3 separate regions of the Homo sapiens genome follow, and regions 2 and 3 are each linked to region 1. The links come from fine-mapping of genetic effects on gene expression. A gene starts in region 1. Each other region holds a variant in brackets. All regions are shown on one strand. Distances are between the middles of the regions. Region 1 holds the start of TRIM14 (tripartite motif containing 14). Region 2 overlaps TRIM14 (tripartite motif containing 14). Region 3 overlaps ANP32B (acidic nuclear phosphoprotein 32 family member B).

Region 1 (10,481 bases):
GCAGGCAGATCACGAAGTCAGGAGTTTGAGACCAGCCTGACCAACATGGAGAAACCCCGTCTCTACTAAAAATACAAAAATTAGCCAGGTGTGGTGGTGCACGCCTGTAATCACAGCTACTCAGGAGGCTGAGGCAGGAGATCACTTGAATCTGGGAGGTGGAGGTTGCAGTGAGCAGAGATTGCGCCATTGCACTCCAGCCTGAGTGACAGAGCAAGACTCAATCTCAAAAAAAAAAAAAAAAAAAAAATCAGAAGGAAATGGCCAGGCGCGGTGGTTCATGGCTGTAATCCCACCACTTTAGGAGGCCGAGACAGGTGGATCACCTGAGGTCAGGAATTTGAGACCAGCCTGGCTAACATGGTGAAACCCCGTCTCTACTAAAAATATAAAAATTAACTGGGCATGGTGTTGTGCACCTGTAGTCCTAGCTACTCGGGAGGCTAAGGCAGGAAAATTGCTTGTACCTGGGAGGTGGAGGTTGCAGTGAGGCAGTTCATGCCACTGCACTCCAGCCTGGGCAACAAGAGCGAAACTCCATCTCAAAAAAAAAAAAAAAAAAAAAAAAGAAGGAATTTTTTATAAGTTTTTCTAAAACTTAAGTATTAATATCAAAAGCACACTCATGTAAGGCCAGAGTCTGGGCTCCTGTGTTGGAACAACCAGGTTTTATCAGAGCATTGATCTGCTCTTTAATAGAAAATGGTGAGAGATTATCGATTATCTTATCTTGTGTAGTCAAAGCTGACTGAAATTGGATGATAGATAATATACTAACACCTAAGTAATTTTTTTCTTTTTTTGAGACAGGGTCTCACTTTGTCACCCAAGATGAAGTTCAGTGGTGCAATCTTGGCTCACTGCAGCCTTGACCTCCCAGGCTCAAGCAATCCTCCTGCCTCAGCCCCCCAAGTAGCTGGGACTATAGGCACACACCACCACACGCAGCTAATTTTTGTATCTTTTGTAGAGACAGGGTTTCACCATGTTGCTCAGGCTGGTTTTGAACTCCTGAGCTCAAGTGATCTGCCTGCCTTGGCCTCCCAAAGGGCTAGGATTACAGGCATGAGCCACTGTGCCTGGCCTAAAAGTAAAACTTGTTTTTCTCCTTTGAATAAAAATGTAATGTAGAATTAATAAGAGACGGTAAAAGATGTATTTACTTTTGCATAAATGGCAAAGAAAAGGTAACTGGGGAGAGTTTGTCCCATGCTGTCTTTATTAGGTCTCTTGATTGAGAACTGAATCTCCTCTATCAGAGTGGTTTTTGCTTTTTGAAATCTTTGAATAATCATTTTGGCTAAAGTAATTACCATTATTTTGTAGTGACCTGTGATTCTATTTTGATCATGTGTTTTAAACCTTTCTTATTTCTATATCAAGTGTTTTAAACCTTTAATATTTGAGATACTTCCCAAAATTAAATTAAGTCTTTTTGACCCAAGCTAACTTGGGCATAACCAGGACCCCTGGAAGTCCAAAAGAGACACATTAGGCTTATTTGGGATGTCAAAGTCATATGGGAAATATTGTCAAATAAGAAATGATGTTTAACTTTCTTTGAGTTATATTTATAAAAGCGTATTATTAATGTGTTCCAAAATTGTATGAGATTCCTAAAAGTCTGATATGTCTTGGTATATGTTATCAGTATATCATTATCATAATTATTATGATAAACTGGTGTGTGCCACACAAATAACCACATATCCTAGTCAATTTCATCTTTGACCGTGGCTATTCTAAGCCTTTTATCATCCACAGACAATTTGTTTTTTTTTTGAGACAGAGTCTCATTCTGTCGCCCAGGCTGGAGTGCAGTGGCGTAATCTCGGCTCACTGCAAGCTCCACCTCCCGGGTTCATGCCATTCTCCTGCCTCAGCCTCCCAAGTAGCTGGGACTACAGGTGCCCGCCACCACGCCTGGCTAATTTTTTTGTATTTTTAGTAGAGACAGGGTTTCACCATGGTCTCGATCTCCTGACCTCGTGATCGGCCCGCCTCAGCCTCCCAAAGTGCTGGGATTACAGGCGTGAGCCACCGCACCCAGCCGACAATTTTTATTTTACTTTGATTCTTTTAAAAAAAGTCGTTTATAATCAGCTACAAAATTTGCTTCATCTTTAAGGAAATTTTTGGAAAAAAACCCTGACAAGTACTCTTGAATACAGGTTTCTGGTAACTTCAGAGATCTTACCATTGGATTAAGCAAAAGCTTCCAGAACTCTAATAAAAACCTGAGGCATTCATGAAGACTGCTAACCCAACATCAAGCAGAGCAAGAATTATTTACATGGGACTAAACTGATAGAGGATAAAAGTGATTTTTATGATTTTTAAAATTTGAAACATTGCTGATTCTTTTTATATTGTTTTTCAGTCAAGAAAATTTTTTCTTTTGTCACAGCAACTGGATAAAAGATACTTTTGTGAGCAAAATTGAAACATTTGTCTTTCTCTCTACCTGATTTCACCAAAATTTGCAAACTATTTGTGTTTACTTTTTTTATTTTCATTTTTAAATTAATTTTTTTTTTTTAGACAGAGTCTTGCTCTGTCACCCAGGCTGGAGTGCAGTGGCATGATCTCGGCTCACTGCAACCTCTGCCTCCTAGGTTCAAGCGATTTTCCTGCCTCAGCCTCCTGAGTAGCTGGGACTACAGGTACATGCCACCACGCTTGGCTAATTTTTCTTTCTGAGGTGGAGTCTTTCTCTGTTGCCCAGGCTGGAGTGCAGTGGCACAATCTTGGCTCACTGCAACCTCTGCCTCGTGGGGTTCAAGCAGTTCTCCTGCCTCAGCCTCCCGAGTAGCTGGGATTACAGGTGCCCACCACCATGCCCAGCTAATTTTTGCATTCTTAGTAGAGATAGGTTTCACCATGTTGGTCATACTGGTCTCGAACTTCTGACCTCGTGATCCACCCACTTTGGCCTCCCAAAGTGCTAGGATTACAGGCGTGAGCCACTGAGCCCAGCACAATTTTTGTATTTTTAGTAAAGATGGGGTTTCACCATGTTGGCCAGGCTGATCTCCAACTCCTGACCTCAACTGATCCGCCCACCACAGCCTCCCAAAGTGCTGGGTTTACAGGCGTGAGCCACCGCACCTGGCTATTTGTGAGTATTCTTATTTTATGACAATATAGTTATTTGCATAAGTTCAATAAGAGTATGTTTTCTTTCATAACAGACCACATTGGAGACACTGGTAATTTTACCAAGGCTTTGACTGAAATGATATATCTTCATATATGATCAGACTGCTTTCAGGAACTGAAGTCAAGTTTACAGAGCCCATAAGAAGACCCTTGGGGGCCAGGCTTGGTGGCTCAGGTCTGTAATCCCAGCACTTTGGGAGGCTGAGGTAGGTGGATCACTTGAGTCCAGGAGTTTGAAACCAGCCTGGGCAACATAGTGAGACCCCGCCTCTATTAAAAAATGTTAACAAGAATAAAATAAAATACAATAAAAGGGGGCCCAGCACTTTGGGACACTGAGGTGGGCAGTTCACTTGAGGTCGGAGTTTTCAAGACCACCCTGGCCAACATGGTGAAGCCACATCTCTACCAACAAATACAAAAATTAGCCAGGAGTGGTGGTGCACACCTGTAGTTCCAGCTACTCAGGAAGCTGAAGTGGGAGAATCACTTGAACCTGGGAGGTGGAGGCTGCAGTGAGCCAAAATTGCACCACCACACTCCAGCCTGGGCAACAGAGTGAGACCCTGTCTCAAAAAAAAAAAAAAAAAAAAATCCTTGGAAAGACTGGACTAGCTTGGTCCTTGTCTACACAGTTCCCTTACAAGGTTCCCGACCTTGTGGTAAGAAAAGAATGTCACTTTCCGACAGGTCTAGGAACCTCAAGATATTTTGGGACCTTGAGAAGAGAATAATTCACCCAATGTGTATGGGTATCACAGGCATAGTCTGATGGTGAATCCTTGGTTTGGCTTTTTAGCTGTAAGGCTTTTAAAAGTCAAATCCAGGCCAGGCGTGGTGTTTCACGCCTATAATCCCAGCACTTTGGAAGGCTGAGGCAAGAGGATCACTTGAGCCCAGGAATTCTAGACCAGCCTGGACAACATGGTGAAACCCCGTCTCTACAAAAAAAATACAAAAAAAAAATTAGCCAGGTGTGGTGGTGCATACCTATAGTCCCAGCTACTTGGGAGGCCAAGGTAGGAGGATTGCTTGACCCTGGGAGGTGGAGGTTGCAGTGAGCCACGATCATGCCATTGCACTCTAGTCTGGGTGACAGAGTGAGACCCTGTGTCTCAAAAAAAAAAAAAAAAAAGTCAAATCCAAAATTCCTTATGAAAGTTCCAATAATGCAAATTATCAGGCCAAGTGTAATATTAAAACTTACTTTGCAAGTAAATTTGTCCTATCAAGACTCATTTTTGGTAAAAACAGGGAACTAGAGAGAGAAAAATTATGTTTCAGAAGAAAATCTTAGCACACCTGTTATGCACACCTGTTATTCCTGTTATTAGATTCCAGCCCTGGCCATTGTTTTTTAGTTTTTATTTTCCTGCAATTTGGACTAAATCCTGAATTATTTCCTGGCTACAACAAGGAAGGTTGTAGAAAAAGTTTTAGAAGCCAATTCCTGGCTTTTAAAGAAGGCTTGGGATTTTCTTCGTGATGTTTTTAGTTGACTCCCCAGTGGAATAGGTTTGGTGTTGTTCTGCCATAGAGATTCTCTGTTTTATTTATTTATTTATTTATTTATTTATTTATTTATTTAAGACAAAGTCTCACTCTGTCATCCAGGCTGGAGTGCGGTGGCGTGATCTCGGCTCATTGCAACCTCCATCTCCCAGGTTCAAGCGATTCTCATGCCTCAGCCTCCTGAGTAGCTGGGATTACAGATGTGTACCACCACACCTGGCTGATTTTCATATTTTTTAATAGAGACGGGGTTTCCCCATGTTGGCCAGGCCTCAAACCCTTGGCCTCATGTGATCCTCCTGCCTCAGCCTCCCAAAGTGCTGGGATTACAGGCATGAGCCACTGTGCCCGACTGCTTATGTCATTTTAATGTAAATTCTTGGTAAACAATTTAGGAACTGCTTCTTCTTTTTTCCTTAAAAACTTATATGTAACTGCTGCTAATCAGAGTGGATAGTCACAGAAATTTGAATCTATGGTCCCAGTTGGCCATCCTCAAGCTTTAGGCTTGGATAAACTCTGTACTTAATCATATTTTCTGAATCTTATTACTTCAAGTTGACAGTAGGTAGTGGGTAGGGGGATGGACAAATGGATGGGTGAGACTCTTGAGCCAGATCTGTGGAAAGCAGCCTTGTTAATTCTGAATAACAGTTTTTCAAGGAGCCATTATTATAATTACAGCCATTTCATACGTTAAAAAAAGGAAGGGTCTGGTGGCAGGGACAGGTCTTGAGCCCACGACTCCACTGGATTGTCCCCCATGATCCCCTTTTCACCTTGGAGTTCCAAGGTTGTCACAGTGTGGTGGTCTGGAGTCATGCAGTACCGGAGAAAGGCTCACGATGGGGCTGAATTCATCACAGAAGACTTCTTGGAGACAAGTGGTAGGATCAACAGCTGTCAGACATGAGGGCCTACCTCACCCAGGCTTCATGAAACCCAGAGAGAGAGAAGGATTTGAGAGAAGCCACAGAAAAAGTCAGCTGGGAAGCTGGAGCAGGAGCCCAGAGCCCCTGGGGCACTGTTAGGATTATGCATGGGTAAGGGTTCCACGGTGACAATGGCCCTGTTGGGGGCATCTGGCTAATGGAGTCCTGGGTTCAAGGCCTGCCCCTGCCTCCAGAGCCTTCCTCTTGTGGCCTATAAAATGGCTGTAATAATAATGGCTCACCCAGGGCTGCTATGAGCAGGAATGGGAGTGTCTGTGTGGCCGGGGAGGGGAGAGGAGGTAGGTAGTGACAGCTGAGGCTGCTCCCAGGGCAGTCAGGCCGTCCTCAGCTCAAAGTTCACAGGCCCTTTCTGTGGACTGCAGATTAAGTAAACCTGAGATGTCTGTGTGGCTTTCTGAGCTACACAGGGCTGTTTATTAAGAGGGAGAGTTTGTACCTCTGTTAACTAAAAGGCAGACTGTCTTCCAGCCCAATGGCAGTGTGGCGGATCGGCCATGGTGGACACGGTCAAGGACATCTGGGTACCAGCCTGGGCTCCCAACCTCTCACTCCTAAACCCACCTTTTCTGAAGCTCAACTGATGGCTTTGGCTCGCCTTTGCCCTTCCTTGGGTCTCAGGCTCCCGCTCTGAACTTTCGGTCGACCGCTTAGACGCCCTCTGGGGCACCTTTGGTTTCCAGGTTGTAACCCGCCACTGGCCACGGCCAGGCACGCCCCCTCCTCGGCCGTTATGCCTGGGCTGGCTCCCCCAACTCCCGCGCGGCGAACCCCGTCCCCATCGTCCCCACCTGCACGTGCACCGCTGCCTCCAGCGCCAGGCCCACAGGGTGGCCACGGTGCGCGCCCAGCACCGGGCAAAGCGCGCACACGCAGCGGCGGCAGCGGCGACAGAAGAGCTCAGCCACGCGGTCGCCATGCTCCGGGCAGCGCCAGCCGCATCCCTCGACAAGCTCCGACCTCCCAGGGGTCCGGCTCCCGGTCGCCGCGCCCGCCATTCATCTCCACCTCCTCCGGCTCCCCGGGACACAGGGCGGGGCTCCCAAGGGAAACCGAAACCTCGGCCGTGGGCGGGGCGGCTCCAGGCCGGCCGGCCGACCCCTAGGAGGATGACAGCCCGCCGGGAGCAGCGTCGGGCCTCGGAGCATCCTCCGACCAGCAGGGTGCTCCCTCTGCCCGCCCAGGCCGGGAGGTGGTCCCACCAGAAATGGGAAGCTCCTAATGAGCCAGCTAGGAGAGGGTGGGCTTCCTGCTTAATGACGCTGTTCCAGTAACGCCCAGAAAACTGCAGCCCTGATGATGGGACCAAAGTTGGCTGTGACCTTCCGGGGGTGCTCCTCTCACTTTCCCTTGATCCTCTCTTGCCCTTTTCCCCGGAAAGATAATCATTCCCACAACTGTAAGATACCTTCATCAACCTCAAATAAGGACACAGAGATTCTCCAATTGAGTTTATTTCGGACTGAGCAGAAGGATTGCAATTCGGGAATAAATGTGCCATGGCACCCAAGGGGTGGGGACGCGGAGTACTCAGGGAGGCAAAGGAAAGCAGAGGCTTTTAAAGGCAAAACGAGGAGGATTGCATATACTGTTTTTTTTGTTTGTTTGTTTGTTTTTGTTTTTTTTTTTTTTTTTTTTTTTTGGAGACGGAGTCTCGGTCTGTCGCCCAGGCTGGAGTGCAGTGGCGCCATCTCTGCTCACTGCAAGCTCCGCCTCCCGGGTTCACGCCATTCTCCTGCTTCAGCCTCCCGAGTAGCTGGAACTACAGGCGCCCGCCACCACGCCCGGCTAATTTTTTGTATTTTTAGTAGAAAAGGGGTTTCACTGTTTTAGCCAGGATGGTCTCGATCTCCTGACCCCGTGATCTGCCCGCCTCGGCCTCCCAAAGTGCTGGGATTACAGGCGTGATCCACCGCGCCCGGCCAGATCGTTTTAAAATAATAATACTTGGTTACAAGAATTAATACAGGTGGCTTCAGTCCAAAAGTTGAACAGGCAGTTGCTGGGCAGATGTCCTCATATCATGGCTTTTGTGCAAGGTTGTGGTTCTTTGTGCAAGGTTGCAGTTTGGTGGAATCTTTTGCAATAATAGTTCCTGTTACCAGGCAAATCGTTGATGAGGGCCCCCCACTTCATGGCCTCCCAGCACCATTTAGTTTGTTTGAGACAGGATCTCGCTCTGTTGCCCAGGCTGGAGTGCAATAGTGCGATCATAGCTCACTGCAGCCTCTAACTCCTGGGCTCAAGTGATCTTCCCACCTCATCTCTGGAGTAGCTGGGACTACAGGAGCACCATTTAGTTTGGTTTTGATGTAAGTGACTCTGTTTTGGTACTGACAACTTTCACACACACACCACCACCCCAAATTCCAGTTGCCCCCCCAGGCTCAAGTCTAGACTTCCACTTATAAAGCCCTCAGCTCTTTCTTAAGATCCTTGGTCTCCGCCCTGCCTATGCTCCACCCTGTGCTTTTTCAAGACTGGGGGACGTGCAGTTTACCCTGCTTGGAACATTCTTCTTCCCAAATGCCCTTTGCCCTGAGTATTCCAACTTACTCTGCAGGTTTCTACCTTACTATCTTTTCCTCCAGGAAGCCTTCCCTCCTTCTCCTTCCAGAACAGCCTATGCTTTCCCTATCCTGGCCCTCCCCATTCCCGCAGCCATGACTGAAAACTGGAGAGGGCAAAGACTGTCTGTTCTGCCTGTTTTCCAGCTTGGTGTCTGACTCCAAGAGTAGATAGTTAATTGGTATTTGTGGAACAAATCAAGAAAAGGAAAGCTCCTTGTAGTAAAATGGCCAGATGTTTATTATTTTGTTACATTATTTCCATTGCATATTCCACATCTATTTATTTTCACTTTTATTTATTATCATTATTTTTCACAAAGGTACAAGGAATTTCAGAAACAACATTAAAACAATCATTCAAACTGTTTCAGGCACGGTTTCAATTAAAAGCATAGATTTGATTTCTGACTTCCTGTTTCCTTCTATGATACAATCTCAAGTTTTGTTTCAGGAAGCACAATTATTGTAGCGTTAAGGTGGATACCTGCCAAAGCTCATCTCCTAGTGCTGTCCTCATTCTCAGAAAGTTCCTGAGTCAACAGAAAGGGGACGCCCAGGGTATGGAATAAGGAGATGAGAGCATGCTCTGCCAACTGGCTGGGACCTGAATGTGCTAGGCAAGTTCCACTACATCAGCTCAAGAACATAAACAAAAATGTAATTTAAAAAACAGATGGTTTAAAAAAATATCTGATAAAAATTACCTATCCCTCTCCCTTGCTGTGAAATAATTTAAATAATTTATTCTAGATGTAAAAATAATAATACAAAAAAGTTTGTTCAAAGACACCTGTGTCCTGTTTGTTAAGTGTGCAGTCTGGGTCCCTTGGGGTGGAGGGAGCTGGCCAAGGAATGGCATTGTGCAGAGGCATACCGGGAAGCTCTCTGGATGCAACCCCACCTCTACCGCTTGGCAGTCAATGACCTTGGCATGATGTTTCTTCACTTCTCTGAGGCTAGGTCTTTGATTCTGAACATGGGGACTGTAATGCCTGCCTGACCTGTGTTAGAACAGCATGTGTCACTGAGTGGAGGTGGGAGGAATTTGTAAACTGTGAAGTGCTAGCCACACAGGTGGGAAAGGTAAGCCTATCCTGTAGAGCTCTGCTGCCCTGACAATGCCTGGGATTTGGCCTTCTTTTCTGGAGCACACTAAGGCAATCTTGGCTAGTGCATCAGACGGGAGTGAGCCCCAGTGACTGAGTAAATGGAGAATAAGACAAGGAACACGAGCATCCGGCCTGTGCAGACATACAAGCAGAATAAACCACAGCTGGGTAAGGGGCAAACAGGGGCACTGAACCCCCATCGTGCTGCAGCTGCGGTTCCCAGAGATGTTGAGGGAGGGCTTGGGGCAACACTTCTGGACTTTTAAGGAGCCACCAGGCAGGACTTAAGAGATCTGGGTTGAGTCCCAGCTCCTGTCTGGAGCTTGCTGTCCTCTTCATCTTTATTGCAAATAGGTACACATGCAGTCTTCCATCTTCACTGTACTGCAGATCACCTGTGGAGCTTATATGACCATACAGGCCCTACTCTGGAGATTCAGCTTCAGTTGGTCTGGAATGTGGCATGGGCATCTGTATTTCCTGCACGCTCCCAAGGGAATTCTAATGTACACAGCTTGGGTTGAAACCTACCAGACTAGGTGGCCTCCTGCAGTCCCCACCTCAGCTCCAGAATCTAATCGCCCTGTGCAATGGAGATCATCTGCCCCTCCTTGGTAAGGAGGGACCAATTTCACTTCTAATCATTCCCAGTCTCTTGGTGGACTATTGTATTGACCACTGAACTTTAGAGTAGGGCTCGGAACACAGATTCACTAAGGAGGGACAAAGAAAAGCTTTCAGGCTAAAAGGGAACTTTGGGACCATCTGGTACTACTTCTTTACCTCGTATAGTCATTTCAGAAGACCTCCTGGTTAGGTGGCCAGAGGCTCTGCTGGCATGTCTCCAGTGATGGGGGCCCCCTACCTCCTGGGGGACTCTTCTGTTAACTAGGGCTGAAATCTGCCCACATCATCCTGCAGGAGGCAGGCTGTGTACCTGAGGGCCTTGGTGGTGGCAGTCAGCAGTCATGGGCACAGTTCTGAAGTCTGCGTCCCTCCATAAGGGACAGCATCTATCCATATCAGGCTGATTCTGGTTGGAAAGGTTGGTTTTGACCACCTGCCTGTGTTGTAGAATTGGGTTGAATGCCTCTGACCCCTTGCCAGTGTCCGTTAGTTTCTGTAGCAAACCCAGATCACCCCACAGGTAGTTTTCTCTTAGGTCAAGGTTTCAGGTGGCA
Region 2 (10,481 bases), 22 kb before region 1:
GGAGACAGGGTTTCACCATGTTGTGCAGGCTGGTCTCGAACTGCTGACCTCAAGTGATCCACCTGCCTTGGGTTCCCAAAGTGCTGGGATTACAGGTGTGAGCCACCGTGCTCGGCCTTTAAATCAGTATGTTAGCCTTTGTATGGAAAATGTAAATTTATTCAGTGCCTCTGTTTTGATATTCACTGTCCCCCTCCCAACACCAGGGGCAGTGATCACCATTCTTTGGTTTCCCTCTGTCTCCTGATGGTTACTTTGCACTTGAATAAACTCTGCTAACTGGATACTGAGCCTTCTTTAGATTGAGTCTTTTTTAGGTTGACACCCAGTAATTCCACTTGAGAAATTACTCCTAAAAAATAATCTGAAAATGAGGTATGGTGTGTTCATTCTCTCATTCATTAATTCAATTCAACAAATGTGTACAAGAATGGATGTTTATTACAGCATTGTTTTAGAAATGAAAATGTAAACATCCAACATTATGAGATTGGCTAAATATGACACATCCATTCAATGCAATGCCATGCAACCTCTAAAAACAATGATAAAAATAAAAAATTAGCTGGGCATGGTGGCACACACTGATAGTCCCAGCTATGAGGGAGGCTGAGGTGGGAAAATCATTTGTGCCCAAGAGGTCGAGGCTGCAGTGAGCCATGACTGCACCACTGCACTCCAGAGCAAGACTCGGTCACACACACACACACACATAGTGATAATATTAGCTGGGCACAGTGGCTCACTGTATAAATCCCAAATATATATATGTTCATAATATATCAGTAAATGAAAACAGATGACAAAACAGTATGTATAGTATGACACCACGTTTGTAACATAAAAAGATATATTAAATATATCATTATATGCATATTAGATGTGCTAAAAAAGCTAAAAGGACAAATAATAATAGCAGTTATTCACAGAAGAGGGATTATGAGTAACTTTTTTCTTTCATTTTCTAATTTTTCTACAATGAACATGTATTGTTTTATTGCCTTTAATAATAAACATTTTTTAAAAAACAAGTTCTTAAAATAAATAAATAAATAAATTCTAATGAGAAAAAAAGAGGGACCTCCATTTCCATGATCCTCCTCCACCCAACATCCCACCATCTCCACCGTCTCCACCCTATCCCCACTCCCGGGGGTCTTACATTTCAGCAATAGCGATCGCTCTGGTGAGGGGCTGGTTTTCAACAAGGTACCTGGCTTGGTGCTGGAAGGGTCTGAGAGCTGGCAGTTTATGCCTGTAAGGAATTGTTGAGAAATGAGCGCCCGGAGCTTATGCAAGCAGACAAATAAGACGTGCTAAAAATACCACACAACTGGAGATTCGCATAATCTCGCCCAAGAGCCAGGCAGATTTAAGGGATTTATGTGAATTCACAGGGACAGGAAAACCCCAGGATGACAAGGCTGGTGTGGGAGAGTCCTAAATAGGAGGAGGAGCTGAGGCGCGAACAACTACTGGATCCAACACTCAAGGATGGGCGGCGACTCAGGGAAGATGTGCAGATTCCAGGGTAAAGATGGAAAACAAGAAAGTAGAGCTGAGTCCTCAGGAAGGTCTGAGTGCTCAGAAAGAAAGAAGGAGGGGAGTCTATCCCAACAAGCGGGCACAGCAGGGGCACCCAGGGCCCTTGGCACTTGCTGTGCCCTCTGCCTGGACAGCCCCCCCACACCCTTCCCCCCTTGCCCAGGTTGCCTCCTTCCCAGCTATTGGGGCCGCAGCTCACTCAGCACCTCCGCAGAAGTGCCTTCCGCCCCCATCACTCCCAGCACTCATCACAGGGGCCTGTAGAGATCTGTGGGAAGCCCACCTGCAGGCTGTTTAAATCAAGTTTTGCCTAAAGCTCCTCCTTACATCTTTTAAGTTCGGCCTACATATTTTTCTGTACGTCATGAACAATAACAAGTGGAGGTGTAAACAGACCGTAGCCTGCACTTGTGCCAATCACCAAGTTTTGGCCAATCAGATGTAGCCAACTGTTCAAATTGTGTTCAAATTAGGCGAACGCCGAGCTGTAACCAATCCAGCTGCTTCTGTACCTCACTTCTGTTTTCTGTACGTCGCTTTCCTTTTTCTGTCCCTAAATCTTCTTCCACCACGTGGCTGTGCTGGAGTCTCTGAGTGCACTGTGGCTCAGAGGGCTGCCGGATTCATGAATCGTTCATTGCTCATTTAAACTCCTTTAAATTTAATTTGGCTGAAGTTGTTCTTTCATCAAGGCAAAAGCCTCTCCCCTCTCCCCAGAACTCTAGAATCATAGGTCCTACTGCCGAGGCGATACCACCACATGGGAAGTCCAACTTCTCAAATCTAACAGGTTCACTTCATTCCCTCCAGTCCTAAATACTCTTTCTCACTTCAGAAAATGACAGTTTCCTTCTGCGAGTTGCCCACGTCCAAATCCTTGGATTCTGATCTCTTTCCTCTCTCCCCTGTGACCCTACGTCCACTCCTGTTGTCCCCATTGCTGCTCCTTCGATATGGCCAGCTCACTCCCATCGCGCCTCAGGACCTCCACCCTTGCTTTTCCCTCTGTCTAGAATACCTCCCCCAGACGTAACAGCAGCAGCAATCATAATCGCCAAGACATACGTGGTGCTTAATATGCCTGAGCGCTATATGTGTAAGAGCTCATTTAATCCTCACAGCAGCCCAGGAGAGGCGACTGCATTATGGTCTCCACTTTACAGATGCAGAAACAGAGGCATGGAAAAGGGAGGAGCCGTGTCTAAGATGGCAGGGTTCAGCAGGGTTCCAAGTGGTAGACCTCGGATAGGAACCCAGGAGGCCTAGCTCCAGAGGCCGTGCCTATGACCACTGTGCTCTCTGGCCCTTCAGACCCACAGAACCTGCAGAATGAATGCTTCCTTTGGGCCACCTTGAGTGTCCCCTTCTCAGAGGCCATCCCAACTGCTTATATAAAACAGCTCCTCCTCCTTGTCACTTTCCTGTCTTCCATCCTGCCCTGGTTTATTATTATTATTATTATTGTTATTTTTGAGACAGAGTCTTGCTCTGTCACCCAGGTTGAAGTACAGTGGCATGATCTCAACTCACTGCAACCTCCACCTCCCGGGTTCAAGCAATTCTCCTGCCTCAGCTTCCCGAGTAGCTGGGATTACAGGTGCATGCCACCATGCCTGGCTAATTTTTGTATTTGTAGTAGAGATGGGGTTTCACCATGTTGGCCAGGCTGGTCTCAAACTCCTGACCTCATCATCCACCCACCTCGGCCTCCCAAAGTGCTGGGATTACAGGCGTGAGCCACCACGCCCGGCCTTTATTATTCTTTATAGCAGTATAGCAGTTCCTGTCACCTGACATGTTTGTGTACGGTCTGTCTTCCCCTACGAAGACTGTGAGCACCAAAAGAGGAGAAGGAGCTTTGTTTTGTGCCCTGCTATGCCTGGCATATAAGAGGGGCTTGATAAATGTTCTGAATGAATCATGATAGCAGAGGTGAATGAATGAATGAATGCATAAATGAATCAAAGAACAGATATTTTTGAGTACATGTTTTGTGCCAGGCCCTGGGGGGACCTCAGAGTTGGACCTAAAGCTGGTTTCTGCCCTTCACGTGCTTACAAGGGGCAAGGAGGGGGGTCCATGTATCCACTTCATGAGCACCCTCTAGCAGGACATGGGCAGGCCCTGGAGCGGGAAGGGAGAGGGGAGATGGCTAAAGGAGAGAGTGAGTCAGGGCTGGGCTGGCAGGAAAGGGCTTCCCAGGTGGGCGCAGCTGTGCCAGTCTGCCTCGAAGGGGTGCCAGGCCTTGGCCCCAGCCAGAGGAAGAGAAGGAGGAAGAGTTGGTCATTCCAGCTGGGAGCCCAGAGCAAGGCTGAGATGTGGCAGGCTCCCAGGAGCAATCTGAGGGGCAGAAGCAGGGCAGTGTGACTGGAGAAGGGCAGGTCTCAGTCTCAGGAAGGGTTGGAGGTGAAGTGGTGAGGGTGGGTTGGGCACCAGGCCCAGGAGCCCCTGACCGCCCAGCCAAGGGCCTCAGTGTGGGAGAGACAGGATGTAGGGAGATGATCTTTGCATTCGTCTCTGGGCTAAAGGACACTAGGGGAGTTAAGGACACAAAGTTGGTCACTCGGCGACTTACTTTCCTTAAGGCGAATGTCCAATGGCGTCTGTAATGTACTCTCCACGGCTTCCACGAGGCCCTTAAAGAAGCTCTTGACGGGCTCAAAGGAGAGGGGCACGGGATGGCACAGCTCCCCGAGGCTCATCTGCTGCTGCATCTCCTGCTCGGTGGCCGTGTATGCCTGTGTGGGCACACGGGGGTGAGGGTGGCTCTGGGAGATGCAGGCAGCATCCCAGCCTCCTGTGCTGCACCCAGGAACAAACCCACACCAGCATGCCCAGGCTCCACGTTGGCCTGGCACCTATGGTCAGCCCAGGCCATGCCTGCAGGAGCAGAGCCCTGGAGAGACCATACGGCATCCCTGAGGTGGGAGCCATGCGGAGGTGCGGTTTTTCAGTGCTGGCACTGGGGATTCCTCCCTCTCCATCCTTCCTCCTTTCCTTCCTTCCTTACGTGTTCATTGAAACCTACTCTGTGCCAGCTATGCATGCAGAAGGCAGGGTCAGGCTGACACGGGGCCCTTCCCAGAGAGGCTTCAGCCTCACACACACTGCGCCACGGGTCTGCCTTGGGTACAAAAAGGGTGAGAGGTCAGTCTCCCTGGGGAAGGAGCACCTGGAGCTTATTCAAAGGTGGAGCAGGAAACCATGTTCTAAGAAGGACGCCAAAGGCCAGCAAGGTTCAGCTGCAGTGCTGACTGAGGGGGTGTGGCCACCGCAGGGGACATGTGTCCTGTTTTGCACCTGGACAGCCCCTCTTCAATACTTTCCTGTGGTATGTGGCTTCACTAAGGAGAAGCTAGAAAACCCCCTCTCCCAGCTCCCTTTGCACCTGTGCTGCAGGAGTGTGACCAGACGCCTCCAAGCCAAAGCGTGGATTTGGAAATGACGGTGAAGGTAGTGATGGTGGCATGTGGCACTGAGGGACAGCAGTGGTGGGGGCTCTGGTCAGTGGTGTGAGTGGTGATGTCTTGCCCAGCAGGGGTGCCGTGGGGCCTATACTGGCACCAACCCCTGCTGGAGTCTGGACTTCATTCCTGCTGCCCATCTTCCATCCCGACTCTCTGGCCCTCCTGGAGATCCTATGGGCTATCTCATACTCTTCCATAAACTCCTTTCTTGCTTAAAACAGTTCCAGTGGATTCTCATGTTTGCAGGTAAGAACCATGGCTGCATTTTCTGAAGCTCTGTCCTGGCCAGGAGTTGGAAGGAAGATGACTGCCTCAGGTGATCAGGCTTGGCTGGCAGTGGCAGTGCTGCCCACCCGAGAAGGGGTGGACAGATGAGGGCCTCAGGAGGGAGGGAGGGTGGCCTAGCACTTGGCTGTTGGGCAGGGGCAGATCCCACCTGGCAGCATGCTGTACATTGGGAGGGGGCTGTGAGATGGCCTGCAAGCCCCATTCAGCCTAGGAGGCCAGGAGTCTATAGAGTCCAACCTCATTTTGGTGGGGAACCAGGCCTAAGGTCACACCCAGAGCG[C/T]TGGAATGGAGCTGGCCAGGGGAGACCAAGCACTAGCAGGAAGTCCAGGGTGGGCAGGGAGCAGCTCCGGGGAGGCGAGAGGGGGCTCAGAGGGCAGATGAGTAGGGTAGGATGAGGGGTCGATAGAGGACACATGGCACCACCTGGTAACCCCAAACTCCAGCAGCTAGCACCAGACCTGACACACAGGTTCTCAAAACATATGTATGATGGAATAAATCAATGCATGAAACCGAGCACAGCCACTTTTTTGCCTTTGCAGACTCAGAGAACAGAAATCCCAGCCCTTCATCTCTCAGGCCAGAAACCCAGGCATCATCTGGGGATTCCTCCTACCCATTCTCCAATTCCAATCTCCATTCCTGTGGCATCTCTTGACCTGCCTGTTTCTCCCCATCCCCACTGCCCCTGTCTTGGTCCAGGCCACCATCATCTCTCTCCTGGACATTGTGGCCTCCTCCCAAGTTCTCTTCCAGCCTCCCATCCTGGCCTCCTCTGTCCATCTTCCACTCTATCTCTAAAGTGACTTTTCTAAAGCACTAATCTGACCATGTGAATGCTTTCATCCCTCAGTTCAAAACACTCCCCTGGGCTGGGTGCAGTGGCTCACACCTCCCAGCTCTTTGGGAGGCCAAGGTGGGCAGATCACTTGAGGTCAAGAGTTTGAGACCAGCCTGGCCAACATGGTGAAACACTGTCTCTACTAAAAATACAAAAATTAGCTGGGCATGGTGGCACGTGCTTGTCGTCTCAGCTCTTCCAGGGGCTGAGGCAGGAGAATCCCTTGAACCTGGGAGGCAAAGGTTGCAGTAAGCTGAGATTGAGCCACTGCATTCTAGCCTGGGCAATAGAGTGAGACCCTGTCTCAAAAACAAACAAACAAACATTCCTGTCTCCTATCTCATTACAGGACAAAGTCTGAACTCCATGGCACATAAGGCCTTCATGAACTAACTATGGCCTATGGATCCAGCTGTGTCTCTCAATCCCCCCACCCTTATACCCTCACCTCTCCTCAAGTCAGGCTGCACCCCAGCTGGTTCCCCAGCCTGTCAAGCTCTCACATGTACACAGTTCCTGTCTGTCCTCTCTGCGTCCTCTCTATATACAGTGTGCTCCTACTCATTGTCCAGCACCCAACCCTACCATCACCTCTTCCTAGAAGTCTTCCCAGACTGCATCCTTCTCCCAGCCAGAGAGTGTCAGACATTTCTTGGACATAATTTTGCTAGCTTCATATTTACAAAATTGTTTAAGCTGTATTGTAAATAACTGTTTCTGAGCAAGTCCCCCACCCAACTGTGAGCTCCTAATGTCCAGCAAGTGACCTGGCTCAGTACATATTGATGAATAAACGAATGAACACATAGAAGGTGGGAACGGTGAATGATTAAAATCATTAGCTGTGGCCCAAGAGAATTTGAAAAAAAAAGATGACAAAGCCCTGAAACCGTTTTCTGATGTGAGAATAGCATGCTTCTCCATGGAAGGATTCCTTTGTATTCCATAGCCTTAAAAACGACCATTATTTAAAAAGAGACAATTACATGTAACACTTTGTGCATCTTGCCTCTCTTAAAGCACAACACCCATTATGCCTAGGAAAACACTTCATCCAGAATTTGGCTCAAACAGCTGACAATGAGACACAGGCTGAACCGACTGAGGCCACATAAAGACACAAGAGTGGAAATCCCCAGCTGGAGACTGGCTTGGCGGGTTTTGTGTTGACTGGCTTATTTGTCTGTCTTATTTTCCAGCCAGAGCCCATACTAATCTGTGGTTAGAGTTGGTGCCACTTTTAGTTGTACCCTGCCTTGTCCCACAGCCTTTAAAGTGTCTTGTGAAGGTCCTCTAATAAGGCAAGATTTTTCTTTATAGCGAGAAAAATGAAGCTAAGAGAAAATTAGACACAAAGTGTTTGCCATGAAGCCTTAGTCTGGTTAGTCAAAGCAGATTTGGCTCTGAACTTCCCAAGGCAAAGAAGGAAACAGGAGGAGCTCTATTAGTGGAAAAGCAATTCTAGTGCAGAAGTGACTGCACAGGGATATTGACACCAGACAACAGTTTCTTCCACGGTTCCCTAAAGACAGGAACACCATCGGCCGGGTGCGGTGGCTCACGCCTGTAATCCCAGCACTTTGAGGGGCCGAGGGGGGCGGATCACGAGGTCAGGAGATGGAGACCATCCTGGCTAACATGGTGAAACCCCATCTCTACTAAAAAATACAAAAAATTAGCTGGGCGTGGTGGGGGGCGCCTGTAGTCCCAGCTACTCGGGAGGCTGAGGCAGGAGAATGGTGGGAGGTGGAGCTTGCTGTAAGCCGAGATCACACCACTGCACTCCAGCCTGGGCGACAGAGCAAGACTCCGTCTCAAAAAAAAAGAAAAAAGTAGACAGGAACACCATCCTCAACAACATGCTTTCTCTAAATGTAGCAATGACTATCCCTGGGGCTAGTTCTTTTCTTTTTTTTGAGACAGAGTCTCACTCTGTTACCCGGCCTGGAGTGCAGTGGCATGATCTCGTTACTCACTGCAATCTTTGCCTCCCCGATTCAAGTGATTCTCCCACCTCAGCCTCACAGGTGCACGCCATCACGCCTGGCTGATATTTGTATTTTTAGTAGAGAGGTGGTTTTGCCATGTTGGTCAGGCTGGTCTCAAACTTCTGGCCTCAAGTGATCTGCCACAGGGGCTATTTCTTAGACTCTTCCTCAACAAAGCCCAGTGGCCAAGGAGTACCATTGAGCCAGCTGTGACTCAGCCTTTGAAATGTGCTCAGTAGCTGCAAGGACACCTGCCTTTTCAGGTGGGGTGTCTCAATTTAAGACTATAAAGGCAGGCTGATTGCGGTGGCTCACACCTATAATCCCAGCACTTTGGGAGGCTGAGGTGGGCGGATCACCTGAGGTCAGGAGTTCAAGACCAGCCTGACCAACGTGGAGAAACCCTGTCTCTACTAAAAATACAAAATTAGCCACGCATGGTGGCACATGCCTGTAATCCCAGCTACTCAGGAGGCTGAGCCAGGAGAACTGCTTGAACCCAGGAGGCAGAGGTTGTGGTGAGCTGAGATCGCACCACTGTACTCCGGCCTGGGCAACAAGAGAGAAACTCCATCTCAAAAAAAAAAAAAAAAAAAAAAGACTGTACAGTCAGAGGGCCAGGCAGGGTCCCTTGTGGGTTTAGAGTCAGACAGACCTAGACAGACAGCCAGACCTGATACCAGCTCTGCTACCTACCTGCTGTGTGAGACCAGGTGAGTCACTTCACTGAGCCTCAATTTCTTGTTTATAAAATGGGGTGAGCCCACTTTGCAGAGTTCTGGTGAATATTAGTGCTAAACTACACAGTGCTCAGGACACAGGGGCCTTTGAAATTGGTGGCTGTTAATATTATTTAATTAGCCCAAGAGGTGTATTATCTTCCTAACAATGTATATTCTCTTGACCACCTGTGTGGGGGCAAGACAGTCTACATGGTGACAAGACAATAGTCCATGTACTTGCTTAGTGTGTCAATACTGTGCTCAATGCCACAATACTTGAGATGAAGTGTGGGTGGCAGGTGGCAGCAGTAAGAGCAGTGACCCCAGCATTACCTGAAGCCTCTGGACAGGATCGGGCTCCTGGCTGATACTCCAGACCCTGTTGGAGAGATCATTCATGATGTCAAGTTGCTCTCTGCAAGAGTCAGCTTGTTCCCTGTACACCTGGAGGGTAAGCTGCGTGTTTTTATCAATGAATTTCTTGGCCAGCGCTTCCTCTTCGTCAAGTAGTAATCTGAGTTCAGTGAATTTCCCCTTCAGCCAGGTTTTACTTGACTCTGCATTAGCCTAAAAACAGAAAAACCAGTTGCAGATGACATGTCTGCCAACCAGGAAATCCAGAATAATCAACATGAAAAAAATCATAACGTCTGAAATGTGAGTTCAGTAAAGTGGCCAGTCAGACACAAGATCAACTTATAAAAACCAAAGCTTTCCTAAGCACCAGCCCATCACCGATCGTAAAATGCACGGAGAAATAAAGATCCTTTTGAAAATGGGAGAAAAAATAGCAAAATATGTGGAAATATACCTAATACAAAACCATATTCGTGACTGGGAGGGTTGATTACTATAAAGTCACTATTTGTCTCTAAATTAGTCTATAAATTTGATGAAATTCTAATCAAAATCTTAACATGCTGATTAAAAATTATTAAATCATTAGGAGAGAGAATAAGCATAAGAAAAGCCAAAATTGCTTTAAAAAAATCAATAAAGAGAAAACTGATAAGAGGTTATCTGCCTTATCTGCCTTATCTGATAACAAAACAATAAATCTACAGGATCTAAAACCATGTGGCTCAAGCATAGATAAGAGGTCAAAAGTACAAAATAAAGAGCTTTTAAAAGAACTCAAATTATATATGGAAATGTATGTATGTGTATGTGTGGTGTAACAGTGGCATTTTAGAACAAATTTTTGTATTTTTTGTACTAAAAATATAAAAGTAAAAATAATTAAAATAATATGAGATTTTCCACAATGAAAGGTTAAGGAAAACAAACAAAAGAGAAGGTCCAGTTAAACTAAAACACTGTACATAAAGCCCAAAGAATAAATCAATTAGATGAAATACAAAACAATTTTTATTTATTTATTTATTTATTTTTATTTTTTGAGAAGGAGTTTCACTCTTGTCCAGGCTGAGTGCAGTGGTGCGATCTTGGCTCACAGCAACCACTGCCTCCCAGGTTCAAGCGATTCTCCTGCCTCAGCCTCCTGAGTAGCTGGGATTACAAGCACGCACCACCACACATAGGTAATTTTGTATTTTTAGTAGAGACGGAGTTTCACCATGTTGGTCAGGCTGGTCTTGAACTTCTGACCTCAGGTGATCCACCTGCCTCA
Region 3 (10,481 bases), 100 kb before region 1:
TCAGAGTTAGCCAAGCAAAGAGGATGGAAAGAGCATGCAGAGACCAGGAGGCAGGTGAGAGCATGGTGTGCTCTAGGACCCAGGAGAAGCAAGAACTGCCGCACTAGAGGTCCGAACAACCAGCTAGAGATGCAGGTGCCTCTCAGCCTCCTGTCCCCTGAGTCACAGGGTTATTATGGGTGTTTCTCAGGTTCCTGATTTGAGCAGCTGACTGTGACTCTGGTAATGATACCCAAGAGAAGGTACATGATTTTTTTTTTTTTAACTTTTTACTGTCAAAAATTTCAGACAGTGACAAAGGGTAAAAATAATAGCAAAATGAACCCCCATGTTCTTATCACTCAGCTTCAGCAATTATTGGTCATAGCTGATCTTATTTTATTCCTGCATACCCTTACCTTCTTCCCCACTCCATATAATTTTGAAGCAAATCTTAGCCATTGTATCATTTCATCAGCGAGAATTATAGTGTTTGTCTTATCTACCAGGACTTCTAGCTCTCTGATTTTATGGGACTCTATCGGACAAAGGGACTGAGCTGTAGCACATAGTAGAAAGAAAGTGACTGCAGTTCGTGGCCTTACAGCATTTGTTCTGTGAGCCAGCCCACAGATCCTCAACACTTTGTCCCCTGTGGAGCGTCGAGGATATTTAATGAATCCCTTTTGGACTATTTTTAGAAGGAGAAGATGAGGAAGACGAGGACGATGAGGATGGTGAAGAAGAGGAGTTTGATGAAGAAGATGATGAAGATGAAGATGTAGAAGGGGATGAGGACGACGATGAAGTCAGTGAGGAGGTCAGTGCAGCTGTTTTCTACCCTGCTTCCTATTTGTAATTACAACAAAAGTGGGGGTTTCAAAAAGATGACAAAAGAAAAGAAAAAACACCTTTTGAAGAAATTAGTATACCTGTGAATACATTTACAATATGAATCTGGTTAATTTAGTGTTTGTCTGGCTTTAAATAACTACTAAATAGAATGCCTACTGAACTCAAACTAGTACGGTTCCTGGCTGTGCAAGGTAAGTTCTGGCCCTCTGGGGGAAGGAATGAATTGAGTATTCAGTGTGGTGAGAAAACTGGACATGTTGAGAATTGATGGTATGTCTGTTCCTTCATTGAATTGTAGGGAAGTTTATGTTTACCAAGTCTAAACTTTTTCTTGTATATTCAGTGTAATTCAGTAAATATATATCTGCTATGTTAAAGAGTTGGGAGTACAAAATGAAATGAGATTGTGGTCCTGCCCTGAAAGAGCACAGTCTGGTTTATGAAATACCCAATAATAGAGGATCCCTGAGGAAATAAATGCTATACGAGGGCAGGAGAAAACAGTGTCTTGACTTTGACCCTCAAAGAGGTTTGGGAAACAGGCAGACAACATTAGTTGTTAACAAAACGCATCCTCTTTTGTAGTATAAAAATAAGGCTTGGGGTTTGTGTGATGTCATTAGGTGTATGATTGACATTAAAGTTCTGAAAGAAGCTTTGTATATGAATGGGATATAGAAATTTTTGTCTAAATCTGTTTTGAAATTTGAGATTTTAAGATGTTTTCTTGAATTATCCAGAGTTATATACTAATTAAACATCTAGCAAATGAACTGCTTGCTTCTAAAAAAAATTTTTCTTAGAAAAATTATAAAGCTCGTTAAGGAAAATCAGTGGGTCTTGGTACATCAAAGTAGATAAAAATAACATTACAGTTTCCTGCTTGATTGATATTGTTGCATTTATTTGTACTTCTTAGTTTGGCAGAATTTGTACTATATGCACTTTTCAATTTGGCAGAATTAATTTAATGTTATGCTGTTTGCTATTCTTTAGGAAGAAGAATTTGGACTTGATGAAGAAGATGAAGATGAGGATGAGGATGAAGGTGGGCCTAATGCATGCATTTTGATCATTCTCAGTTAAAAATTAGAGAAAAACATCCATTATTTAGAATATGATACCACTGAGAAGAAAATAAAATACTCTTGGCTCTGGTGGTTTACACATTCACATTCTCGTTTCTATCGTCCCATCAGTGTGTCTGTGCTGGTGCAGGCTCCCTGCTGCTACAGCAGTTATTCCTGTCTCATGGCAAGGGTCCTGTTGGTCTTCAGTCCTCATGGGGTTTTTTTCGGGGTGGTGGTGGTGGTGGTGGTGTTTTGAGACGGAATCTCGCTCTGTTGCCCAGGCTGGAGTGCAGTGGCACGATCTCGGCTCACTGCAAGTTCCGCCTCCTAGGTTCAAGCCATTCTCCTGCCTCAGCCTCCAGAGTAGCTGGGGCTACAGGCGCCTGCCACCACGCCCAGCTAATTGTTTGCATTTTTAGTAGAGACGGGGTTTCACCGTGTTAGCCAGGATGGTCTCAATCTCCTGACCTCGTGGTCCACCCGCCTCAGCCTCCCAAAGTGCCGGGATTACAGGCGTGAGCCACCACACCCGGCCTGTTGTTTTCTTGAGATGGAGTCTTGCTCTGTCGCCCAGTCTGGAGTTCACTGGTGCAATCTAAGCTCACTGCAGCCTCCACCTCCCAGGTTCAAGGGATTCTCTGCCTCAGCCTCCTCAGTAGCTGGGATTACAGGCATGCACCACCACACTTGGCTAATTTTTGTATTTTTAGTAGAGACAGGGTTTTGCCATGTTGGCCAGCCTGGTCTTGAATTCCTGGCTGAATTCAAGTGATCCACCCACCTCGGCCTCCCAAATTACTCGGATTACAGGTGTGAGCCACCATGCCTAGCCTGTTCCCCATGTTTTAAATGTGTTTTTAGGACCAGTCATTTGGTTTACTGTCAAGTGTGAGTTTCTGTGTTTGGAGTTCTTTCATTTTTTAAAAAAAGGCTTTAATAATTGAACCATCATTTTCAGGATATATAAATAGATGTAGCAGTTTCCCAGTTTTGTCAGTGTTAGTCCTTTCCCCACTACAACCAAGACAAATGAAATAGCTGTTACTTATTTAATACTGTTGAAAGTATGCCAGCCTGGACAACATAGACCCTGTCTGTACAGAAAATTAAAAAGTTAGCTGGGACCGGGTGTGGTGACTCACGCCTGTTATCTCAGCACTTTAGGAGGCCGAGGCAGGTGGATCACCTGAGGTCAGGAGTTCGAGAGCAGCCTGGCCAACATGGTAAAATCCTGTCTCTACTAAAAATTAAAAAATTAGTCAGGCGTGGTGGCACGCACTCAAACCCAGGAGGCAGAGATTCAGTGAGCTGAGGTCATGCCACTGCACTGCAGCCTGGACAACAGAGCAAGACTCTGTCTCAAAAAAAAAAAAAAGTTAGCTGCACATGGTGGTGCACACCTATAGTCCCAGCTACTTGGGAAGCTGAGGTGGGAGGACTGCTTGAAGTTGCAGTGAGGCTATGATAGTGCCACCGCACTCCAGCCTGAGTGACAGAGGGAGACCTTGTCTCAAATAAAAAGTCTCATGGTTGTGTCTCAGAAAATCAGGTGTTCACTGTGCTGTTGGCTGATGTTTTCTCAGCATCCACTTTGTCAAGCTCTCAATTACATTTACACTAGATATTACCCTGGTTAGGACCTGGTCACTGCCTTTAAGAACCTGTATGATTGGGAGGCCGAGGCGGGTGGATCATGAGGTCAGGAGATCGAGACCATCCTGGCTAACACGGTGAAACCCCGTCTCTACTAAAAATACAAAAAAATTAGCCGGGTGTGGTGGCAGGCGCCTGTAGTCCCAGCTACTCGGGAGGCTGAGTCAGGAGAACGGCATGAACCCGGGAGGCGGAGCTTGCAGTGAGCCGAGATCAAGCCACTGCACTCCAGCCTGGGCGACGGAGCCAGAGTCTGTCTCAAAAAAAAAAACAACCTGTATGAAATATGATTTAACATATAGTTAATTTCATTAAAATAACCATGGATTTTATTAGTTGAAAAAATTGGTCTATATGTAAGTCTCTGTGTCTCGACTACATAATACTCTTAAGAATTTCCTTTTTAGTTAATATTAGTTTGCTACAATTTGAGTCTTAATGATGTTCCATACTATGTTTTGTGTGTTATTTAATTCTCAGAATAACCTTTTAAAGTCAGTACCATTGTCCCCATTTTACAGATGAAAAAGGCTTAAAGAGGTTAAGCTTGTCTGAGATCACTTGAAAGTAAGCATGTCTTGAAGACGTGCTAGATAGCACGAGGGGTTTTGTTTTGTTTTTTTGGAGACAGTTTCGCTCTTATCACCCAGGCTGGAGTCCAGTGGCACAATCTCAGCTCACTGCAACCTCCGCCTTCCGGATTCAAGCAATTCTCATGCCTCATCATCCAGAGTAGCTGGGATTACAGGTACATGCCACCATGCCTGGCTCATTTTTGTATTTTTAGTAGAGACGGAGTTTCACCATGTTGGCCAGGGTGGTCTGGAACTCCTGACCTCAGGTGATCTGCCTGCCTTGGCCTCCCAAAGTGCTGGGATTATAGGCATGAGCCAGTGGGCCTGACCAGCTCAGGTTAATAATAAGCACTTTAATAATTGCTAGATTTGTAAAAAGAAACATTTGGAAGACAACACCTTAAAATCGAGGAAACTGGATTAACTTTTCCTGGGTGAGTTGAGGTGCTGCTGTGCATTTTGCTTTTCTTGGTTCTGTGGTCACCACTTATACTTGCTATTAGTCACCTATATTAATCTGATCAAGTTTACATTGTTTTATCTCCTAACTGTCAAAAACTTTGTTGTTGTTGCCTCCATTGGCAATAATCTAAGCAAAATGCCTTTCCACTGTCCTAAAGTCAATTTTTGTTACTGTACAGAGGAGGAAGAAGGTGGGAAAGGTGAAAAGAGGAAGAGAGAAACAGATGATGAAGGAGAAGATGATTAAGACCCCAGATGACCTGCAGAAACAGAACTGTTCAGTATTGGTTGGACTGCTCATGGATTTTGTAGCTGTTTAAAAAAAAAAAAAAGGTAGCTGTGATACAAACCCCAGGACACCCACCCACCCAAAGAGCCAAAGAATAGTTCCTGTGACATTCCGCCTTCCTTCCATGTAGTCCCTCTTGGTAATCTACCACCAAGCTTGTGGACTTCACCCCAACAAAATTGTAAGCGTTGTTAGGTTTTTGTGTAAGATTCTTGCTGTAGCGTGGATAGCTGTGATTGGTGAGTCAACCGTCTGTGGCTACCAGTTACACTGAGATTGTAACAGCATTTTTACTTTCTGTACAACAAAAAAGCTTTGTAAATAAAATCTTAACATTTTGGGTCTGTTTTTTCATGCTTTGCTTTTTAATTATTATTATTATTTTTTTTACATTAGGACATTTTATGTGACAACTGCCAAAAAAGTATTTTTAAGAATTTAAGCGAAATAAACAGTTACTCTTTGGTAAAGCCTAGTTGTATGCTTACATTTTTAAATTATACTCTCATTGTAAGCTCATGTTAAAACACCAAAGAACTGGTTTATTTGGCATTTTTATATTAGTAGTTGTTGAGGGGAATTGCACAAGTGTGTAGGATCTTTGAGCATTTAGATCAAATCCTCATTGATAACTGGGAGTAAATGAAGCATACTTTAAAAAATAACGTTCAAAATGGAATACTCTGGGGCCCTGAAAACCAGTAAAATGTTAGGTTCAAGTATTATGTGAATTAAGGGAAAGA[A/T]GATAGTGTAAAGCAAAAGGCCTTCACCAGAATCCCAAGAGATCTGAATTCTAGTTCTGGCTCTGCCACTGATTTTCTGTGTGACCTTGTGTTGACTCTGGGTCACCACCCAGTCTGGAAAATTGAAGGGGTGTGACCAAATGGCTTCTGAAGTCACTTGTAGCACTGATGTTCTGTGACCCTTGCTGACAGGAAGGTCTGAAGAGAAAAATGGGCTTTCCACTAGTCTGAAGCATGTAGGGTTTGACTGATGGGTGAACACAGTATGGTTTGTTGCCAAGACAGGCGTGAAAAGGGGGAATGACATGTGAAAAGCCTCACCAAGCAGTGGGTAGGCACTGCCTGAGGTCAACTCAGGTTTTCCATAAGATGGAAATTTTCTCTATTCTTACAGATCTTAAAGGGATTTGAGAAAGGAGGATATTCTGTCTGTATTCAGTGATTAACCGTTTAGCGAAAATAGATGTATGACTGCATTATCAATACAGTTTTTTATAGTGGAAGATTTAAGGATTGTTTCAGTAAATTTTAGCTTATAGCTGCTGGAATGAGTGAGGTTTTTGATGCATGTAAATGCAATATGTAAAATTGGAATCTAATTTGAATTTATAACAAGTCACAGTCTCTATGGAGCCCCCAAATACTGTACTTTAAAATCAAAATCTCCCATAGACTTTAAAATGGAGTTTCTTTTTTGCAAAGAAAATCCAAGAAAATTTGATTTCTGATTTTACAGGTATTACACATCATTTTCCCCAACCATAAGGCCATTTTGGCAAACCTTCAATACATTGTAAAATGGTTTCTTCTGTAGCCTAAGTGTGTCCTTAAGGTTTTGCTTATTTGTCAAATATCAAACACAGTAACTTTGAGTGATTATTTTTCCCGGTTTGTTGTTGTTGTTGTTGTTTTTAGTTGTTTTTTAAAGTTTACAGAACTTCCCAGTATCTACCAAGCCTGTAGGATATGCCAGGCTTATTGGCTGGGCAAAAGGGAAGGGAATTGGGTTAAAAAGACAAGCCAGCCCTTGGTGCTCATAGTAACTAGTCAGGAAGAAAAGACATCAACACAAGTAATATTTACTAGGACCTAGGAGCAAGAGGTTTAGGTAAGTTTTAGTGTAGCTCAGAGGCTGGAGAGATGGCACCCAACCTGGAGGGAGGGAAGCTTCTTAGAAAAGAAAGTACTTCAGCTGCACATGCAAGTGTGAATAGCGTCTATAAATAGGAATAGAGAGAGAAGGGAGTATCTTGGTGAGCAGAGGTTAAAGGTAGGAAACTGCTGAGTACAGTTAGATACAAGTAGATTTGACAACACATGAATAGATGATAATACTGGACAAGTCATTTGGGCTCTTGTAGGGGGCCTTGAAGGTCAAAGCCTTTTTGTGCATTATAGTAAAATATTGATGTCACCTGTATGTGGCCAGTGAAGATGCCTTTGACATGGTCCTCAGAGAAGCAAGCTGTTTGGTGATGAGGTCACACAGCAGACTATTTTTGGAGTTGTCTCCCATCTGAAGGAGAACATTGAGAGGGTTTGCTTCCAGCTTCTGCAGTAAGTTTAGTTATAAAATGTCTGAGCTGGGTGGCAGCTATGATGGGCTAGATGACTGGTCCTGACTAGCTGCTCCGAGGTTGGTGGAGGTGTGTTCTACATACACACCTACATGTGTGATACATTGGTATGCCATCTTTTTGAAGCTATTTTCTTTTTTCTTTTTTTTTTTTTTTTGAGATGGGAGTCTTCGCTGTCGCCCAGGCTGACATGTAGTGGCACAATCTTGGCTCACTGCAACCTCCGCCTCCTGGGTTCAAGCAATTCTCCTGTCTCAGCCTCCCGAGTAGCTGGGACTACAGGCGCCCGCCACCACGCCTGGCTAATTTTTGTATTTTTAGTAGAGACGAGGTTTCAACATACTGGTCAGGCTGGTCTTGAACTCTCCTGACCTCAGGTGATCCACCCACCTTGGCCTCCCAAAGTGCCAGAATTACAGGTGTGAGCCACTGTGCCCGGTCCATGGCGCCCTGTTTTCAACCTCTGCTCTTACCTTTAGTTCACTCCTCTTTCAGGAGTCCAGCACCTGAAGAATGATAGTGGCCAGCGTGGAAATGCACAAACCACCTTGTGTAAGATACTGCACCCTACCCGCTCCTGTATCACCACCACCAGGACTCCTGGTACATACTCCAGGACAGATACAGGAGAGTTGAGTCGTCCTGTTCCTGGCATTCCTATCTGGGCTACACTACCTACCCCATCGCCAGAGAAAGGTGAGACAGAAGCACAAAGTGGTTGTACACTATGCTATGACCTTCCAGTTTTCTCCAGCTCTGTTGCATTGTGCTGCCATCAATTTTAATGAGCCTGATGATACCGCCGTGTTGACAGTTTGGAAAGGGAATCAAGTTACTAGTAGACTTAAGCTGCAGCCAGCCAAACAGTTGCTCTGCAGGAAAATCACCAAGATTGCAGTGAGTGTGGAAGTCCTCAGAGCCAATTAGGTCAGCTTAATAATCTCTGATCAAGTGGGTATTTTATAACTTGTCCCAGGGGTGTTGGGAGGGCATATGGAGAAAATACCCTTATTCTATTGCTTTTTGTTGTTGGAGACGGTCTGACTCTGTCACCCAAGCTGGAATACACTGGCACAATCATGGTTCACTGCATGCTCGACCTGGGCACAAACAATCCTCCCACCTCAGCTGAGTAACTGGGACTATAGGTGCGTGCCACCATGCCTGGCTAAATATTTTTGGTAGCGATGAGGTCTCACTATGTTGCACAGGCTGGTTTCAAACCCCTGGGCTCAAGTGATCCTCCTGACTTGAACTCCCAAAGTGCTGGGATTACAGGCATGAGCCACTGCACCTGGCCAGAGTTAACTCTATTTCTGATTAAGGGGACTTGACCCCTGGCCAGGAGGGGCCTGGGGTCTCTGTGTTTAAGACAGCACTCCCCAGCGCCAGCCCTGGCAGAGGAAGAGTGGAGGTATGGGGAGGGAGGCCTCAAACAGAATCTAGAGATCATATTCTAGCCCCAACCTGGCCACTGAATGGTATTTGCTCCCCTCTGTCACTTCCCCTCTGAGCCTCCAGTTCCTCAACTGAAACTCCGAGGCCCAAGCTAAGTGAGCCTGCAGGTTGTTTCAGCTGTACAAATCTGCATGTGGTTCACCGTGAGCCTAACCAGCAATAGGAATACTAATTGTATTTCATGCCGTTACTCCCAGTTACCCTCTGAAGGAGTAGGTAAGGGTTTGGGCTAGTAGAAAATGTCAGAGCTATGTTTAGGCTGATGGAATTGAAAAGGATAGACCAGTAGCATGGGGCCAGATGAGTGCTGCACTTTCAGTGAAGGAGGTGTCTTCCAGAAATTGCCACAGGTATATACATAAGTTGGCCAGACTAGTCAGTCATCTAGTAGCATTACAGATGCAGGTTAGTACATACATCTGCCATTGATGGCCATTTACTGAGAGGAATTTAGTCTTCAACTTCCCTGAAAAATAACCTATAATCCCCTTTTATGGATGTGGAAACTGAAGGATTTAGAGGTGAAGTGCCCTATCCAATGTCATGTAGCTAGTAATGATGACCAGGCTGGGATCCAAACCCAGCTCTGCCCAAACCCAAAGCTGCTGTATGTTGCCATATATCCCTCCCTAGGGCCCTTGCTCCTGGCTCAGTTCTGATGAGAAAGTCAGTGGACTTATTTCTCCCTTAGTCCAAAGCAGGGAGCAAAGTAGACACTAGCTAACAAGACTCATTGGTTCCAAAGGTTCAGGACAGGGCGTGAACAGAACTAGTTGTCAGAGTTGGAACCATAAAATGCTTAGGGACACAGGCAAACAGCGAGCACTGTAAATACAACTGGCTGGGCATGGTGTCTCACGCCTGTGATCCCAGCACTTTGGGAGGCTGAGGTGGGTGGATCACCTGAGATCAGGAGTTCGAAACCAGCCTGGCCAACAGGGTAAAACCCCGTGTCTACTAAAAATACAAAAAATTAGCCAGGCATGGTGGTGGGTGCCTGTAATCCCAGCTACTTGGGGGGCTGAGGCAGAAGAATCACTTGAACCCAGGAGACAGAGGTTGCAGTGAGCCAAGATTACATCACTGCACTCCAGCCTGGGCAGCAAAAGTTAATTCCATCTCAAAAAAAAAAAAAAAAATACTTACAACTACAACTCTTATGATAATTTCACACTGTGGGAGGCAGCCCTGTCATATACCATCTTAGAGAACTTGCAAAAGACCCTTTGCTTCTTGGAGCTCAGTTTTCTCATTTATAAATTGTGAGAGCCCTGCCCACTCTCTGAGTCGATAAGCATGACAGGGCAGGATACCCATGAGGAGTAACTTAAGAAGAGCTGGGGACAGCCTATGCCATGGGCCTCTGTCGGTGATAGACTGCACTAGCGTGCATCCAGCCAGGGCCTGAGCACACAAGAAATCCCTGGAAGTGGTTCTGCATAGCTGGTGCTAGATCAGCTGCACCTGGGAGTCACAGTAGCAATGTGTGGGTCAGAAGCCAGCATCTGCGCAGAGTGAGTGACCTGGCGCTGGGGAGTCTGACAGTGGGTGAAGGGACCTGCCAGCCCCAAGAATGGGAATTCCCATCCAGCCCTGGCTTTGTCCATTCCAGTGACTTGGTCAGGGCCCGATCTGCCCTTAGGCTCCCTTCCTGCTGGAACATGGGGCCATTGTTTCCTGCTTCTGTAGCCACCTAGTTCCCCCGACAGCTACCTGTCCAGATCCTACCTACAACCATCCTGCCAAGCTCAGTCCTGACCAGCCACTGAACTGCCTGAGCCCTGCTTCTGACAAAGGGAGTGATGGCCCCTGATGTGTCC

Evidence for each region. PIP is the estimated chance that this variant, and not a neighbour inherited with it, causes the effect. A credible set is the group of variants that fine-mapping cannot tell apart.
Region 2: its variant is the best candidate, but not a certain one, in a credible set for the expression of TRIM14 in whole blood (INTERVAL, PIP 0.86).
Region 3: its variant is the best candidate, but not a certain one, in a credible set for the expression of TRIM14 in whole blood (INTERVAL, PIP 0.52).

The regions. Positions count from the first base shown.
Region 1 is chr9:98,112,570-98,123,050 of GRCh38, forward strand. TRIM14 (tripartite motif containing 14) reads right to left here and starts at 6,653. Exons shown (of 6, transcript NM_014788.4): 1 at 6,413-6,653. The coding sequence starts at 6,619. It overlaps CORO2A (coronin 2A), which reads right to left. Exons shown (of 12, transcript NM_052820.4): 12 at 8,406-10,481. RefSeq lists an enhancer at 6,127-6,176 and a silencer at 6,487-6,586.
Region 2 is chr9:98,090,747-98,101,227 of GRCh38, forward strand. TRIM14 (tripartite motif containing 14) reads right to left here. Exons shown (of 6, transcript NM_014788.4): 3 at 9,185-9,418; 4 at 4,121-4,283; 5 at 1,163-1,255. Among named protein-coding and RNA genes, the nearest start is that of TRIM14, 23 kb to the right of the region's middle. RefSeq lists an enhancer at 1-465. The variant C/T (reference allele first, on the strand shown) is at 5,581.
Region 3 is chr9:98,010,591-98,021,071 of GRCh38, forward strand. ANP32B (acidic nuclear phosphoprotein 32 family member B) reads left to right here. Exons shown (of 7, transcript NM_006401.3): 5 at 681-799; 6 at 1,831-1,882; 7 at 4,774-5,353. The coding sequence ends at 4,841. Among named protein-coding and RNA genes, the nearest start is that of ANP32B, 32 kb to the left of the region's middle. RefSeq lists an enhancer at 219-288. The variant A/T (reference allele first, on the strand shown) is at 5,627.